Homo sapiens: one gene and its partner. The protein of the gene in region 1 binds, or shares a complex with, the protein of each later gene. Each region holds a gene or a part of one and is shown on either strand. Other genes may lie near its edges.

Region 1 (7,832 bases):
CATTAGTTGGAGACCAGCCTGACCAACATGGTGAAACCCTGTCTCTACTAAATACCAAAAAAAAAAAAAAAAAAAAATTAGTGGGGCATAGTGGCGCATGCCTATAATCCCAGCTACTTGGGAGGCTGAGGCAGGAGAATTGCTTGATCTGGGAGGTGGAGGTTGCAGTGAGCTGAGTTTGCGCCATTGCACTCCAGCCTAGGTAACAGAGTGAAACTCTGTCTCAAAAAATATATATATAATATATATATATATTTTTTACGGTAGATTTTAAACACCAAAATTATGAAAAGAGACTGTAGCTAACCTTATTACATGCCAGTTCTTCTAATTTATTTAAGAATTATTTTAACTTTTTTTTTTTCATTCTATTTCAGGCTGGTACACCCCTCCAAAGGAAGATGGCTAAATGTGTTGACTGTTGTATGTTTGGACTAATGTTGCTTTAAAGAAAATCTTTCTAACATGCAGACAAAAGCTTTGAGTGCCCCTATTACAGCAGTACCGAAGATGTTAGTTAATAGATATTTTAGTGGATAATCTGTCATCTGACATCCAGTATAAGTTACAGCCTTTGCATTTTGCTCATTTTAGATATCTTGGACTGAGCAGTGGGGCCTTTACTGTATTTTTCCTGATAAATACACATACTGGCCACTCCTTATCTCTTTTTCTTGAAAAGTGAACTTTTTAAAGCAGCCAAGTCAACATCAGGCTACTGAAGTTGAGGCTTTAGGGTAACTTTCCTATATTGAGCCCATGGGTTACAAGGATTTGCAATATATTGTTCCATTTACAGCCAATACAGGTTTAATCGATGTTCAATATTGGTTTAGGAAATTTAAGGCCTTCTAAATCATAATAGCTCTTTCATGTCTAAAACCATTTTATGATATTGCCAAAATGTGATAGGAAACCTACTCATTAAATTGTTAAACTTTTTAATGACTATGTGAAGATATGAATTGTTTCCTGAAGATAATACTCTTAATTGAGTTGTATTGTACTTCTTAGGCAAAGCAGTGTAAAACTGTATCAATTAAGGCTTGTGAGTAGTGATTTCCACTGGGGCATCAGAGTCTTGGCTGGGCTGAATCTGCTGCTTGTTGGTTCAGTGTTTCTTATGAACAAGAGCCACAGTACAGAGCTTCAAGTTATTTAAAATACTAAGTCATCTTACGTTTCCATTTTATTAACGGGATGTTGCAATCGTTTGTAAACTAATAAACTTATAAAGTGATTGGCACAAAGACTCCTTGAGCAAAAGCTGTGCAGTTAAGTACAAAAAGATACTTAATTTGGAGACTCTTACAGTAATTTTTGCCATGTCAAAACAATGGCTTTTACATTGAAAGATTAATAGAAACTCTACATATGTTAATTTTTTTATAGAACCTGACTCAAATCAAGGTACTCTCCATTTTATTGCCTTACCTGAATCAGTCCTTTTTGGTTGGTAATAGATTTTTTTATACACCCACGTTTGATTTAAAAGTAAATTCTAGTTCTTAAGCACTTTTAACAAATCCAGAAGCACATTTTTCTGCACAAACAAGTTACAAAGTTCAAAAGTGTTTCTTGTGCATTAGCTTTGAGATTCAGTTTTTAACTTTGTAAACCACATCTGAGAGACTTGTCATTTCTACATTGTGTGTGTTTAATTTCTTTTGATTCCATTTTGGTTAAGAGAGCAGTAAATAGATTTTCTGGTATTCTTGTTCACTTGATTACATTTGTATAAAGTTCTGATTGCCAGTTGCTCAGATAACAAGTGACAAGGCAGAATTCTTTAAATCAGTAAAGTTCCTTAAGCCTAAGGCTAAATCTTGAATACATTGTTGAATTCTTTAATATCCTGATGGCAAGCAGACTGATAGCTGCACATTTGGCATGCTTTGTTTAATGGATTTTATTTTTAATTGCAGATTTATTTGGCAATGTACAGTAAATTTTGTAAACTTGCATCAAGTTTATGAATAAAGAACCATTTAAAAATTTTGTTTGTGCTGATCATGGCAAGCAAAAAAAAGATTACTTTCTCATTTTTCCCTCATAAGAAAACTCTGCTTGATGTGTTTGTAGGCTTTATTGAGTTTCTGGAATAAGATATTTAAGGAGGGAAGTGGTGAGGGGAGGCTTGGAAGACAGGCAGATTTAACAAGAGAAAGTGAAAGTGTGAAAGAACCTGGAAATAGTCTGTACAATAGTCACCTTTTCCTCCGCCTTTTTCCTCTTCCATTCTCATTATAAATTCAAGTGCTACTTTTTCCTTATGGCTATCCTTAGTTCCCCCAGTGAAAATAATCTGCTCCTTCCTTAGCATACCCATGGCCTCCTTGCACACAATTGACAGATTATTTCACATACAAGAAGTCCAGAGGTAGGACAACTCCAGGTACTGTACATCTGGGCTTTGCTCTGCTTCCTTGAGATTTTTCTATGTTGGTTTCATCTTTTGGTTGCATGTTATGTGCAGCCCCCTTACTTGATCCAGAGGTAGATAAATGGCCCTGTCTTCTAGTGTCTCCTTAGGAGGTGAGGAAATCTCTAAAAGCACCATCCCATCAAGCACACTGCCTCTTGCCTTTCCTTGGCTACATCAGGGACCTGTGCCCACCCCTAAACCAATGGTGGTGAAAAGAATGAAACCATCGTGATTAGTTTGCACAAATGGTTCTCAAAGCCTTATTTGGGGAACACTGGAGACCCCTGAGACCATTTCAAGAGGTTTTAAAAGACTATTTTCATAATATTAAAACATTTGCCATTTTCACTCATTCTTCCATGTGTACAATGGAATTTTCCAGAGGCTACATGATGTGATTTTGCAACAGATTGAATTCAGAAGCAAATATGAGAATCTATTTGTCTTCTATTAAGACAAATTAAATATTTGCAAAAATGTAGTGATGCCGTCACTGGTAAACTGTCCTCTTTCCCTACTTTATATCAGCCACAAAGAAAGAACGCCCACTTTGAAAGGCAGTCAGGTTTCATTCAGTAGCCAGAGAATGGAGAAGGGGAGCTCATACTCTAAAGGCACCTTCTCCCAGAGGGATGGGAGGCTGGGGAGTTTAAAGAGTTAGCTGAGGGGCGGGGGAGGTATGAACGGCATGCACAGACTGGAGTTCCAGACAAGCAGGCATAGTCCCTGAACATGCTGCTTCATACATCCATGTTCGTAAGATGCCAGTGAGCTTTCTTTAGGGAGAGGATTTTAGCATTATGTTAATTATCTAAAGGTAACTGGAGGGCGCCTGTTTATCTTCCTCTGGTATTCCGCAAGGGGTCAGGAAGCTCTGGTGACATCTGGGCCATCTGGCTTCCTTAAGCAGCTGCGCCTATAAATAGACTATGGGAAAAAACTGGCTGGGCTTGGTGGCTCATACCTGTAATCTCAACGCTTTGGGAGGCGGAGGCAGAGGGATGTCTTGAGGCCAGGAGTTTGAGACCAGCCTGGGCAACATAGACCCTGGGTCTACCAAAAAAAAGAAAAAAACCACAGCTACTCAGGAGGCTTATGCCACTGACAATGTCATACTATCCACCAGTGGGGGAAGGAGGATTTGGGAAATAATTGTTTTCCATAAAAATATTTCGTTAATGTATAACATCGGTTTTTTAAAAAGAGTTAAGCATTAAGATGTTCTGATTTAATTTTTAATATGGTAAATATTGATAGTCATAACACACATAAACTATTGGTCGTGTCAATATTTTAGGGTGTAAAGGGTCCTGAGGCCATAATGAGAACTGCTAATTTAGACCAAGTTTCTGCCCAAGATCTGGCGATCAAATCAGGGCTCCCTTAGGAAGGAATTGGCGGGAGGAATGGATGTTAGGTGGGGACAAACCTGTGTCTGCTGTGCTTCCATTTCTTGGTGGTTCTCAGTTTGAGCATGCATCAGAATCGTCATAAAGTGTGTTAAAACAGATTGCTGGGCCTCACCCCCAGTGTCTGATTCAGGAGGTCTGGGATAAGGACCGGGAATGTGCTAAAACTTAGTAGTTTCCAGGTGAATCTGATGTCCCTGGCGGGGAACTGGTGCACAGCTTGGGGCGTGCTTCACAGCAATCATCTCACTCAGCTACCTTAGAATGGCAGGTGCTATTTATGCCATTTTACTCATTCGAAACTTTAAACCTGAAGATTACAACGAGTTAACTAAGTTTACAAGGAATAAAGGCAGTGATTTTCACACACTAAGACAATTTTTTAAAAGCAAACGTCCGTTTATAAATCGAGCTTATGCTATTTAAACAGGCATTGGGACTACGAAGAGCAATAAGTACTACCTAGTCCCTGCAAGGAATTTGTGAATTAGAGAAAGATGTAAACTCAGAAATATGGCGGTGCCAGGGCAGTGAGAGGCACAGGCACAGAAGAAGAATTTATTTTCACTGCAGGAGGCCTCCTAGAAAGTTGCCAGGAGCGGTGGCTTATGTCTGTAATTCCAGCACCTTGGGAGGCCCAGGCGGGAGTATCGCTTGAGCCCTGGAGTTTCAGACCAGCCTGGAAACCCGTCTCTACAAAAAATACAAAAATTAGCTGGGCGTGGTGGCGGGAGCTTGTAGTTAAAGCTACGAGGGAGGCTGAGGCGGGAGGATCGCTTGAGCCTGGGAGGTAGAAGCTGCAGTGAGCAGAGGCCGCGCCACTCCACTCCCGCCTGGCCACAGCATTAGACCCAATCTCAAAAATGAAGAAAACAGTTCCGAGCGTATTACGGAACGGAGTACACCTCGGAGTACGGGCTCCAGACGAGGGAACGCACCGGCGTTGCCACGCCCACCTTCCCCGTCCAGCCGGAAGTGGCGCGGACGCCTGCTCAGTGCGCGCCGGCCGGGCAACCCTATGCTGGCGTAATCGGGTTCCTCCGAGCCGCCGTAGGACTGGTTCCGGCGGGCTGGTGAGGAATGGAGCCGGTAGGCTGCTGCGGCGAGTGCCGCGGCTCCTCCGTAGACCCGCGGAGCACCTTCGTGTTGAGTAACCTGGCGGAGGTGGTGGAGCGTGTGCTCACCTTCCTGCCCGCCAAGGCGTTGCTGCGGGTGGCCTGGTGAGGAGAGGAGGCGGAGGCGGGAAGCTTGCCTGGGGACACGCCGTGGGCATGTCCCAGGCTGGCGGGGTGGGGGGAGAGACCCTTGGGACCCACCAGGGCCGTCCCCGGCTCGCTCGCCCTACCTGAGGTGACCCCCTACCCGCGAGGTATCTCCCAGCCGTGGTGCCCCGGGGGGACTTCCCTGAGGGGCGAAGTTCCCCTTAAGGTTTTCTCCATATCTGGCTCTTCTTCCGAACTAGCGCCCTGACTGACACCTACCTACCCCGGGGACTTTGGATCCCGCAGGGATCTCCTGCTGCTGCGCCAGCGGGTGGGGGTTTGTGAGCTGTGGGAGAGACGAAAATGAACGTCCGTTCGCAATCCTTTGTGCGTTTGCGTCCTCAGCGTGTGCCGCTTATGGAGGGAGTGTGTGCGCAGAGTATTGCGGACCCATCGGAGCGTAACCTGGATCTCCGCAGGCCTGGCGGAGGCCGGCCACCTGGAGGGGCATTGCTTGGTTCGCGTGGTAGCAGAGGAGCTTGAGGCAAGTAGCAAGGGGTGTCATGCACAGTCATTTGCAGGTTGGTGGTTCAGTCTTTGAGAACTATTTTTTTTTAAATCCCAGTTTTGTTAATTAAAGGAACATCTCGTTCCGTGAAAAGATTTTGTAAACATCAGTTTTAGTGACTACACGGTAAGGATGTGTCATGATTTATTTGACCGTTCATCAAATGTTGGGCCTTTTTTTTTTTTTTTGAGACGTAGTCTCGCTCTGTGGCCCAGGCTGGAGTGCAGTGGCGCGATCTCGGCTCACCGCAAGCTCCGCCTCCCGGGTTCACGCCATTCTCCTGCCTCAGCCTCCCGAGTAGCTGGGACTACAGGCGCCCGCCACCATGCCCAGCTAATTTTTTGTATTTTTAGTAGAGATGGGGTTTCACCGTGTTAGCCAGAATGGTCTCGATCTCCTGACCTCGTGATCCGCCCGCCTCGGCCTCCCAAAGTGCTGGGATTACAGGCGTGAGCCACCGCGCCCGGCATGTTGGGCCTTTTAAGTATCCACATTTTCACTATTAACAACAACGCTGTGCAGAACCTTCCCTTCACCTGCTTCCCTTGAAGCAACTTTTTGTTGTCTGTTTTACCGGGAAGACAACTGGGTGTGTCTTGCTCAGTGAGCACACCTAGAAAGCCAAGAACCAAAACTTAAAGCCAAATATTTCAACTTCTGATCCTGTACTCTTTTGCTTCTCTGGCCCCCAACTTCAAAAGGGGAGCCAACACCAGGAGAGATGAAGACTCGAACTGTGGAGTCAGAGGGGCTGCAGGGTGTACCATCTCTGGGGAGTGGAAGGGAACCATTTGACAGTAAAGTGCCAACCTGCTGCTCTGTCACTCTGTTTACTTTAGTACGGCTTACAGACAGACATAACTACGGTGCAGCCGTCACAATCAGGAAATTATCACTGATACATTTCTACCATTTTATCCTCAGACTCGGTTCAGATTTTGCCAGTTGTCCCAGTAAGGTTCTTCATGGCAAAAAGATCTGTTCCCAATTGCAATTTGCTCTGAGTAAGTCCTGTTTCTTTAATCTCCTTTGATCTGGAACAGTTTCTCAAGCTTTGCTTGATTTTTCCCAATCTTGACACTTAGGAAAATCACAGGCTATTTTGTAGAACATCCATCAATTGTGTCTTTGGCAGGAAATAATCACAGAAGTGATGCTGTGCTTTTTTCACGGCATACTTTAGGTGGCATGTGATTTCCATTCGTCTTGTTATTGGTGGTATTACCTTTGATTACTCAATTAAGGCGATGCTTGCCAAGTGTCTTCACTAAAATCACTCTTCTACTGTAATGATTGTTTTGTGAAGAGATCATTTGAAACTATGTAAATATCGTGTTTCAATTCATTTATTTATTTATATCTGTACACTCTCGGAGTCTTATTTAATTCAGTGGGATATAATCTGTTACTGTATTTTGGTGCTCAAATTACCCCTCTCACCCCCTAGTTTGGCTAGTAGGAGCTCCTTCAGGCTGGCTTCAGTGTCTTTTTAGAGATGACTCCATTATCTTTGAGCACTTTTCTTGTTTTCTGGCACAAGATGTTCTAAGCTTGTCTTGGGTTTTACCTGCCTTGGTCCTGGAATTGGCCATTAAGCCCTGGCTCCTTTTGATGGAGTGTGGTATTTAGAAATCAAGGTCTAGACTCTCTAAGTGTACTCCTTGCCATTGAGGGATTTGCTGCTCCAAAGCCCAGTCATTAGAGCCAAGGAATATAAGTATGTATATACATGCATGTGTATGTATATACATTAGTATATACATATACACACATTTACAATTATATTTCTATATATATGTGGAGGCTCATGAGTTCACACAGGTGCATCCTTTTCGAATCAAACGCAGGATGCTTTCTAGTTTTGTCTCTGCTCATATTTGTACCTCCCTTTTGGGCAAAGGGAAACCTGGTTCTCATCATTCTTAATGTATTTAGATATTACATCAATGCCCCATATGTAACCAATCTTCTGTTTCCCCCTTCCTTGGGTGGTCTTTCTCCTTACCTTGTTTGGGCTCTGGAACTCTCATTCCAGGGAGCTGGCCAGTATCCAAAGGCAGGCTTGTAGAAAACTTTTCTTCTCTGGCACTTTGTCTCAACTCTTCCCATTTTCCCAGAAGTTTATCATTTGGAAAAATTCAAAATGCAAGCAGATTTCCTCGAAAGTGTTCTCTGGAGCATCGTTTATAATAAGGGATACTAAAAACCTAATGTTAATCTAATAAATA
Region 2 (7,024 bases), on another chromosome or scaffold:
CAAACCCACAATAGAAAAAGATTGAGTTTCATCCTATTTCACAAACCTGCAGAGTTGCTGCAGATACATTTTTTATCTGTTACAATCATTTTTACAAGTGAATAATACGACTTCAAAAACAGGGTGAAAAAAATGAACTGCACTCCTGGTAAAAAGTAAGCAACATTCTTTCCCCGTGATGTCTGGTTTTCTGGCATTGGTGACCCACGGTGGAAAAATGAACAGCTTTACATGTTGGTAAGCTCTCCAGATTCTAGGGAGCCTGAGATAATGCTGCCAGTGTAATCACTCATGCCACTGTATTCTGAGTCCTATTTCTTCTTCCAAAGGGACAAAAATGCCAGGAAATAGGAAGTCCATGATGGGACCAGATATGGTAGAGACTGAAGCGGGGGGCAGGGAGGGAAAGTGACACTTAAATCTATTCATGTAGCCAGACTTTCTAGAGTCCATACTGAAGAGGAGAAGCAGCCCCCGTCTTAGGCCAACCACTTGCCTATTTACTAAATCTTCCCAATGTAGCTTAAAGCCTGATTTTAGGAGCCGAAGAACAAAGCCCTAAGATTCAGGTAAGACCATCTTTTTTTCACAATGCAGCTCTACAAAAATATTCCCAGTAGCTGACACCCTGCTTCTAAGAATAGAACTCTATTAGCATTGCTTGGGAAGAAATTTTCTTTCAAACTAAAATATTAGAAAAAAGTCAAATTATTAAACTTCTGCAGGCCACTTCTTTTAGTAGGAACTATCTGTAGATGTTTCAAGCTGTTAAATTGCTGTCTGATATGCTGCAGTTTTCATTCTCCTACTTATTCTGAATAGCAGGAAGAGTTATTACTAGAGTTATTATTCTTTAAAACATGAGTTTTAAAGGTTTACTACATTTTCACATGGATTTTTCTGATATCCAGGAGGCAAAATCATTTCTTTGTCTCTTGTAGAAATCAAGGAGAAATCATGGTTGACTTAAAGGAAATTCCCTTATGGTAAACTACTAAAGGAAAAAAACAGTATTGTTGAGCAACAGATGGTCATATTAGGCTTTCAAGACGCTGCCAAAACTTCAGGAGAAAATTAGATGGTTTGAAGGAAGTGAATGCAAGTTTACTCATCAGTAGTACATTTATCAGTCATCTGCTGACAGAAATCTGAGATCCCACCACTCTGACGACACTGTTCCGCAGGCCCAGCTTGCTCAGAGGTGGCTGTGGACATCTGCTGGGACTCCTGCCCTCGCGCGTAGCCAGGCTCACTGTTTCCTCTGGCACAGGGAGGCAGCACTGCTGGAGGCCGGTCAGATAAACTGAAAATTGATGGTAACGCCAGTTCACCATCAGGAGTACTTTTATCTTTTTCAGAAATTAAAAATGAAAGTGGGCAATCTGCAGCTGAGTACTTGGCGAGTATCTGTATTTGTTCTTGACTCAGAGCTGCTTCTTTACAAACTTTCTGGCAAAGTCCAGTTAGGTTCTGCTTTGTCTCACCCAGAGTTGACAAAATGTGATCTCTTTCCTTCAACAAGCTCTCCTTTTCACTTTGCTGTGAAGTGGGGAAAGAGAACACAATGGCTTGTGTTTATTAGCTCAATCAACATTTCCAAGGCGATCAAATAATATACAGGGGCTTCTCATCAAGTAAGATCACATGGAGTTTATCCTTTCAATTCCATTCAATTATACATTAAATACTAAAGGCCCAGAATCTCCCACCCAAAACTCTTGGGGCAGATGTATTTTGGCACAAAGCATTTTTCAGGTTTTGGAAAGACAGTATGGGTGCACACATAATTTCTCTAGCAGGCCTGGGGCAGCACTTCCCTATCAACTATCTTTACATTTCTAGGTAAACATTAAAATAGCAAATAATGAAGAAAGTAGGATAAAGACTATGTAGTCTAATGTCAATTTGGGGCAGTTTTTCGGTCAAAAGAGTTTGTGACAAACATACGGTTTTTGGAGCTTTCTGGATTTACAGACTGTACATAACAGGTATGGATGGCATTTTGGATGGGATACAAGAAAAAAAGTAAAAGTACAGTTAGCATAACTTAATTACTGAGACTCAAAGCATTGCAAGATTCAACTAATGACCAGCATTTGTTGAGCAGATTCTCTGACAGATATTGTGCTAAATGTTTTCCAACATGCAATCTCAGCTATGTAATCCACACAACACCTCTCTTGATTTAAGCAACATCAAACCCACTGAAGGGATGGGACTGAATTTAAGATGCCTAGAGACAGCCGGTGGGTGAGTTACTAAAGTGTGAAGAATTCGGGGGGGTAATTTTGTGCTTGCTAATTACCATTTTTGTTATTATTATAATTTTAAGATATTACCCCTATAAGAAAGTCTACCACAGAATTTTTCAAAAGTTTTTCTGGTTCCTGCCTTCCTGTCCATGTCACTTATCACTGCTGACAGCATGTCTTTTCTATTATCATCCCATTTCATCCTTCTTGTTCTAACATCTTATTGCTTCTAATCTATTATGAGCCAGGAAACCAAATAATCAAGGTATTTATAAGAAAAGAGTAAATAAACACTTGCTAGAAAGTCAAACGTTTTTCTTATGAAATTTATCACAACTCTCAACAAGTCAGTGTTGTTCTGTTTGCTTTCTGTTCATTGACAGGTTCTGGAGAGTTGAGGCTGCCAGTTAACCTTGAGACAAGTTAGTTCATAGTGCTAATCTATAAGTGCCATCCTTTAGTCTTTTATGACATAAAAGTCACTAAAAGGGTAAAACGAATTTTGCTTTATACAAAAGTATTGTTATGGTTTTATACAAAAGTATTACTATAAAATTATGTATGAATCCAATTATTGTTATTTCTAAAATATTTTAAAGCCTTGTAATATTTTGAGAAAATATACAATAAATACAAAATACTAAATTTTTATATGGCAAAGTATTCTCCAATCTGTTCAGATTTTTATATACAAGTTCTTTTTTTTTTTTTTTTTAAATAGATGTAGGTCAAGAATGTGCGTGTTAAGTATGTGTATGTAAGCAAAATCAATGTTTGGCCAGTACATTTTCTCTTATGCAAAGTTTATCAGTTGCACTCTTCTGATAAAATGAGTCTGCAGATACTGAAAGGGCAAGAACGGTACCTACTGCTTGTTCACAGTAGGAACCATTAAATGCAATCAACACCCATTTCTTTTTATGGTCTCTCAGAAGCCAATCCAAAGGAGGATGAAAACAAAGCTTCCAGAAGAAAGTGAGAAAGAATCTTTCTTCACTCATGGCAATATTCAGCCATGGACTCCTCTACCAAAGTTGGGATGAATCTATTCTAAACAGCAATAGAAAATTTTCAACTGCTGGTTGGTCTTTTAAATTAAATATGGTTCAACAAAATAAGGAGTACTTGAGCTTCCTCCCAGAAATTAGAACCACTACTTAACCTACAGATACTATGAAGATTACAAATATTTTATGACTTCTGTATCTTAATATCCACATGATCTTTAAATACTCTCACTCCTCCCACCCCACTAAATTAGGGATGACATCATTCTTTAAGTATACAAGATGGCTTGCTTCTTCACAACAACTAAAACAAATAGGCACAGCCCTAGAACTCCACCAGAATTATTTCTATAAATTAAATGTTCCCATCTGTTCCCCTGCACTTTAACTCCTACACAGCTAAGCTTCTAAGCAGTTTCCATTTCACTCTAAGTTTAAGACACATATTTACTATAATAGCAGTCAGCTTAATAACTAAAAGTAAAATACAAGTAATTCAAGTTAATTACTTAATGACATCAGTATTTAAGATACCTCCCAAAGTCACTACTTACAGTCATGAGTGGGACTCACTATTAGTGTCCTGCTACCTATCCCTACAATATATTTCCATTTTCCTATAAAAACAACTGTATAAATCACGTTTGAAGTGCTGCACCTTTAATTAGAGCTATTTCTTAAAAAGGAATAAAATTGGCATTCTGGTACCATTCTGGATTTTATACCAACAAAAAATCTTTACAGGCTGGGCACAGTGGCTCACGCCTGTAATCCCAGCACTTTGGGAGGCTGAGGTGGGCGGGTCATGTGAGGTCAGGAGTTCGAGACCAGCTTAGCCAACATGGTGAAACCCTGTCTCTAATAAAAATACAAAAAAATTAGCTGGGCATGGTGGCACACACCTGTAAACCTAGCTAAAAGGGCAGGCTGAGGCAGGGGAATCACTTGAGCCTGGGAGACGGAGGTTGCGGTGAGCCGAGATTGTGCCGCTGCACTCCAGCCTGGGTGACAGAGCAAGACTCTGTCTCAAAAAAAAAAAAAAAAAAAAACCTTTGCATCTAAATCCTTATTTTGAATAGCTAGTGCACAATATTTATTCAAATATAATTTTTTTAAAGATCATAAATATAACTCACCCAATAAAGATATAGAAGAATTTGGCACCAAAAGTACAAGTGACAATTTTATGATAGGGTAAAGAGTACTCACTGTTAGAAAATGGTCACTAATAGTTCCTTAGTAAGTAAAACCTCTGAACGGCAGTTCAGAGAAATCTGCAAATGGCACTGAGAAATATAAGCAAAAATGCTCATTTTCACTCATAAGATAAAAATAAAAGCTACCACGAGATATCATGGTATCTCACTATCAGACTGGAAAAAACCCAAAAGCTGACAACAAATCTTGACTGAGGGTGTGGACAGACACACACACATATACTGCTGCTGGAAGGCCAAATATGACAATTCCTAAGGAGGGGAATCTGTTAATATCTAATAAAATTATGTATGTATTTACCCTTGATCCAACAATCCCACTTCTAGGAATGTGTCCTAGAGACACAGCTCCTTAAACATGAAACAGTATACAGTTATTCACTGCAGGATCCCAACTGTCCACCCACAGAAGACTGGTTTGAACTGTATTACAGTCACTACTGAGTACTATGGAGCTGGAAAACGAATGACAACCTCTCTGAACTAAGAAAAAATATTTCCTATAAATCAATTCTTAAGTTTAAAAAGTACAGAAAAATGTATATAAAATACTTCCATGCAGCAGGATGGATAATAAGAGTAGACATAAAATGTTAACACATTTTTAGAAAAGAAACACAGGGAAAAAAAAATCCAGAAACTAATGAAAATGGTTACCTATAGGAAGTAGCTATGAATAGGGTATAAGGAGAAGATGAGATCAAGATTTGGAGTATATATTTTTTAAAATATAGTTTTAATGTTTGAACCATATAAACGTTTTACATTCAAAATAAAACAAATTAAAAATGTAGGCCAGGCATGGTGGCTCATGCCTAAAATCTCAGCACTTTGGGAGGCCAAGGCAGGAGGATCGATTGAGCCCAGGAGTTTTGAGAGGAGCCTGGGCAACACAGCGAAACCTCACCTTCACAAAAAAATTACCCGGGCATGGTGGTGCGCACCTGTAGTCCTGGCTACTCAGAAGGCTGATATGAGAGGATTTGCTTGATCCCAAGAAGTCAAGGCTGCAGTGAGTCATGACTGTGCCACTGCACTCTAGCCTGGGTGACAGAGTGAAACCCTGTCTCAAAAAATGTAGAGTAAATCCCAGTAATATAAATAGAAAAAAAAATTAATTGTATGCCAAATTGGTAACACAAATATTTCAAATAACTTTAAAGCTTCACACTGGGAAATATTTAAGCATAAAAAAGCAAATAAATCTCAAATTCTGCTCAATTTGTTTACTGTTAATAGTAATACTGATTGTCTAATTTTCTTACTTTTTATACAGTGTGCCCTCACTTAAAATCATCGACAGGTTTTTGGAAACTGACTTTAAGAGAAACAACGCACACCAGGTCCTCAATAAACATTTTGTTCCACATCCTTTCTTTTTTATTTTATTGTTTATTTATATTATACTTTAAGTTCTAGGGTACATGTGCACAACGTGCAGGTTTGTTACATATGTATACATGTGCCATGTTAGTGTGCTGCACCCATTAACTCGTTTTTTTTGTTTTTGTTTTTGTTTTTGTTTTTGTTTTAAGACGGAGTTTCGCTCTTGTAGCCCAGGCTGGAGTGCAATGGCATGATCTCAGCTCACCGCAACCTCCACCTCCCAGGTTCAAGCGATTCTCCTGCCTCAGCCTCCCGAGTAGCTGGGATTACAGGTTTGCACCACCATGTTGGCCAGGCTAGCCTCGAACTCCTGAGCCACCGCACCCGGCACATTAGGTATATCTCCTAATGCTATCCCTCCCCACTCCCCCACCCGACGACAGGCCCCGGTGTGTGATGTTCCCCACCCTGTGTCCAAGTGTTCTCATTTTTACAACATCCTTTCATTATAAAGTTGATGAGGAAAAAAACTGGTTTCATTATCCATCATTTCATGTTAAGTGAGAACTTACTGTATATTATAAAGGAAACAATACACTAATGTAATTGGAGCCAAAATTTTTCCTGTAAATGATGAGAGATTAAACATAAACACAGAAGTGAAGACAAAAGCTCTATACTGCTAAATTTGGACTGGAAATACTACATAAACTCAGGATTTCTAATGTACTTTTTACTTTCATTTACTGAAGCCTGATATATATGAATTCATGATATAATGAACTTTATTTTATACACAGATGCATATATTTCCTAGCTCTGTCCACTGAAAAAGGCCCAGAAGGAATAATACTCCAGCAGCAGGTAGGCTTTCCAAAGTCCAATATAACTGCTAGAAGAAACCAGGAGTTTTAAAGAAATGGGTGATTCCAAATCTTGAAACAATAGAGGTTAAAAAGTGAGACCATGGCAAGTGCTAGATGGTTATGTCAACAGGACAGGAGCTGGCTTGAACGGGCTCTCCCAGGCCAAATTTGAAAAATGTCAACATCAAAAAGAATAATGACTATTACTTATCCTAACAAATTGAATCAGAAAAAATTAATCCATGAGTCCACTGTGATTCCAAAGAGTGGGAGGGAGGGAAAAGAGAAAACAAGAAAAGGCCAGGCATGGTGGCTCATGTCTGTAATCCCAGCACTTTGGGAGGCTGAGGAAAGCA

Evidence for each region. The genes of interacting proteins can lie anywhere in the genome.
Region 2: the proteins of FBXO22 (region 1) and BACH1 are in contact, whole or in part, in a cryo-EM structure (PDB 8S7D), measured with the Homo sapiens proteins. Residues at the interface, in NP_671717.1 of Homo sapiens: Asp366, Gly371, Asn372, Phe373, Ile374, Leu375, Arg376, Lys377, Cys378; in NP_001177.1 of Homo sapiens: Ser7, Val8, Phe9, Ala10, Tyr11, Glu12, Ser13, Ser14, Val15.

What each region holds. Positions count from the first base shown.
Region 1 is NC_000015.10:75,899,050-75,906,881, forward strand, and holds the start of FBXO22 (F-box only protein 22), read left to right. Parts: upstream 1-4,828; 5' UTR 4,829-4,914; coding exon 4,915-5,054; intron 5,055-5,441; coding exon 5,442-5,580; intron 5,581-6,526; exon of another isoform or gene 6,527-6,608; intron 6,609-7,832. Other genes in the region: UBE2Q2 (ubiquitin-conjugating enzyme E2 Q2), read left to right, coding at 378-409. UniProt on the Homo sapiens protein: Substrate-recognition component of the SCF (SKP1-CUL1-F-box protein)-type E3 ubiquitin ligase complex that is implicated in the control of various cellular processes such as cell cycle control, transcriptional regulation, DNA damage repair, and apoptosis.
Region 2 is NC_000021.9:29,336,914-29,343,937, reverse strand, and holds part of BACH1 (transcription regulator protein BACH1), read right to left. Parts: intron 1,540-7,024; coding exon 1,105-1,539; 3' UTR 1-1,104. UniProt on the Homo sapiens protein: Transcriptional regulator that acts as a repressor or activator, depending on the context. Binds to NF-E2 DNA binding sites. Plays important roles in coordinating transcription activation and repression by MAFK.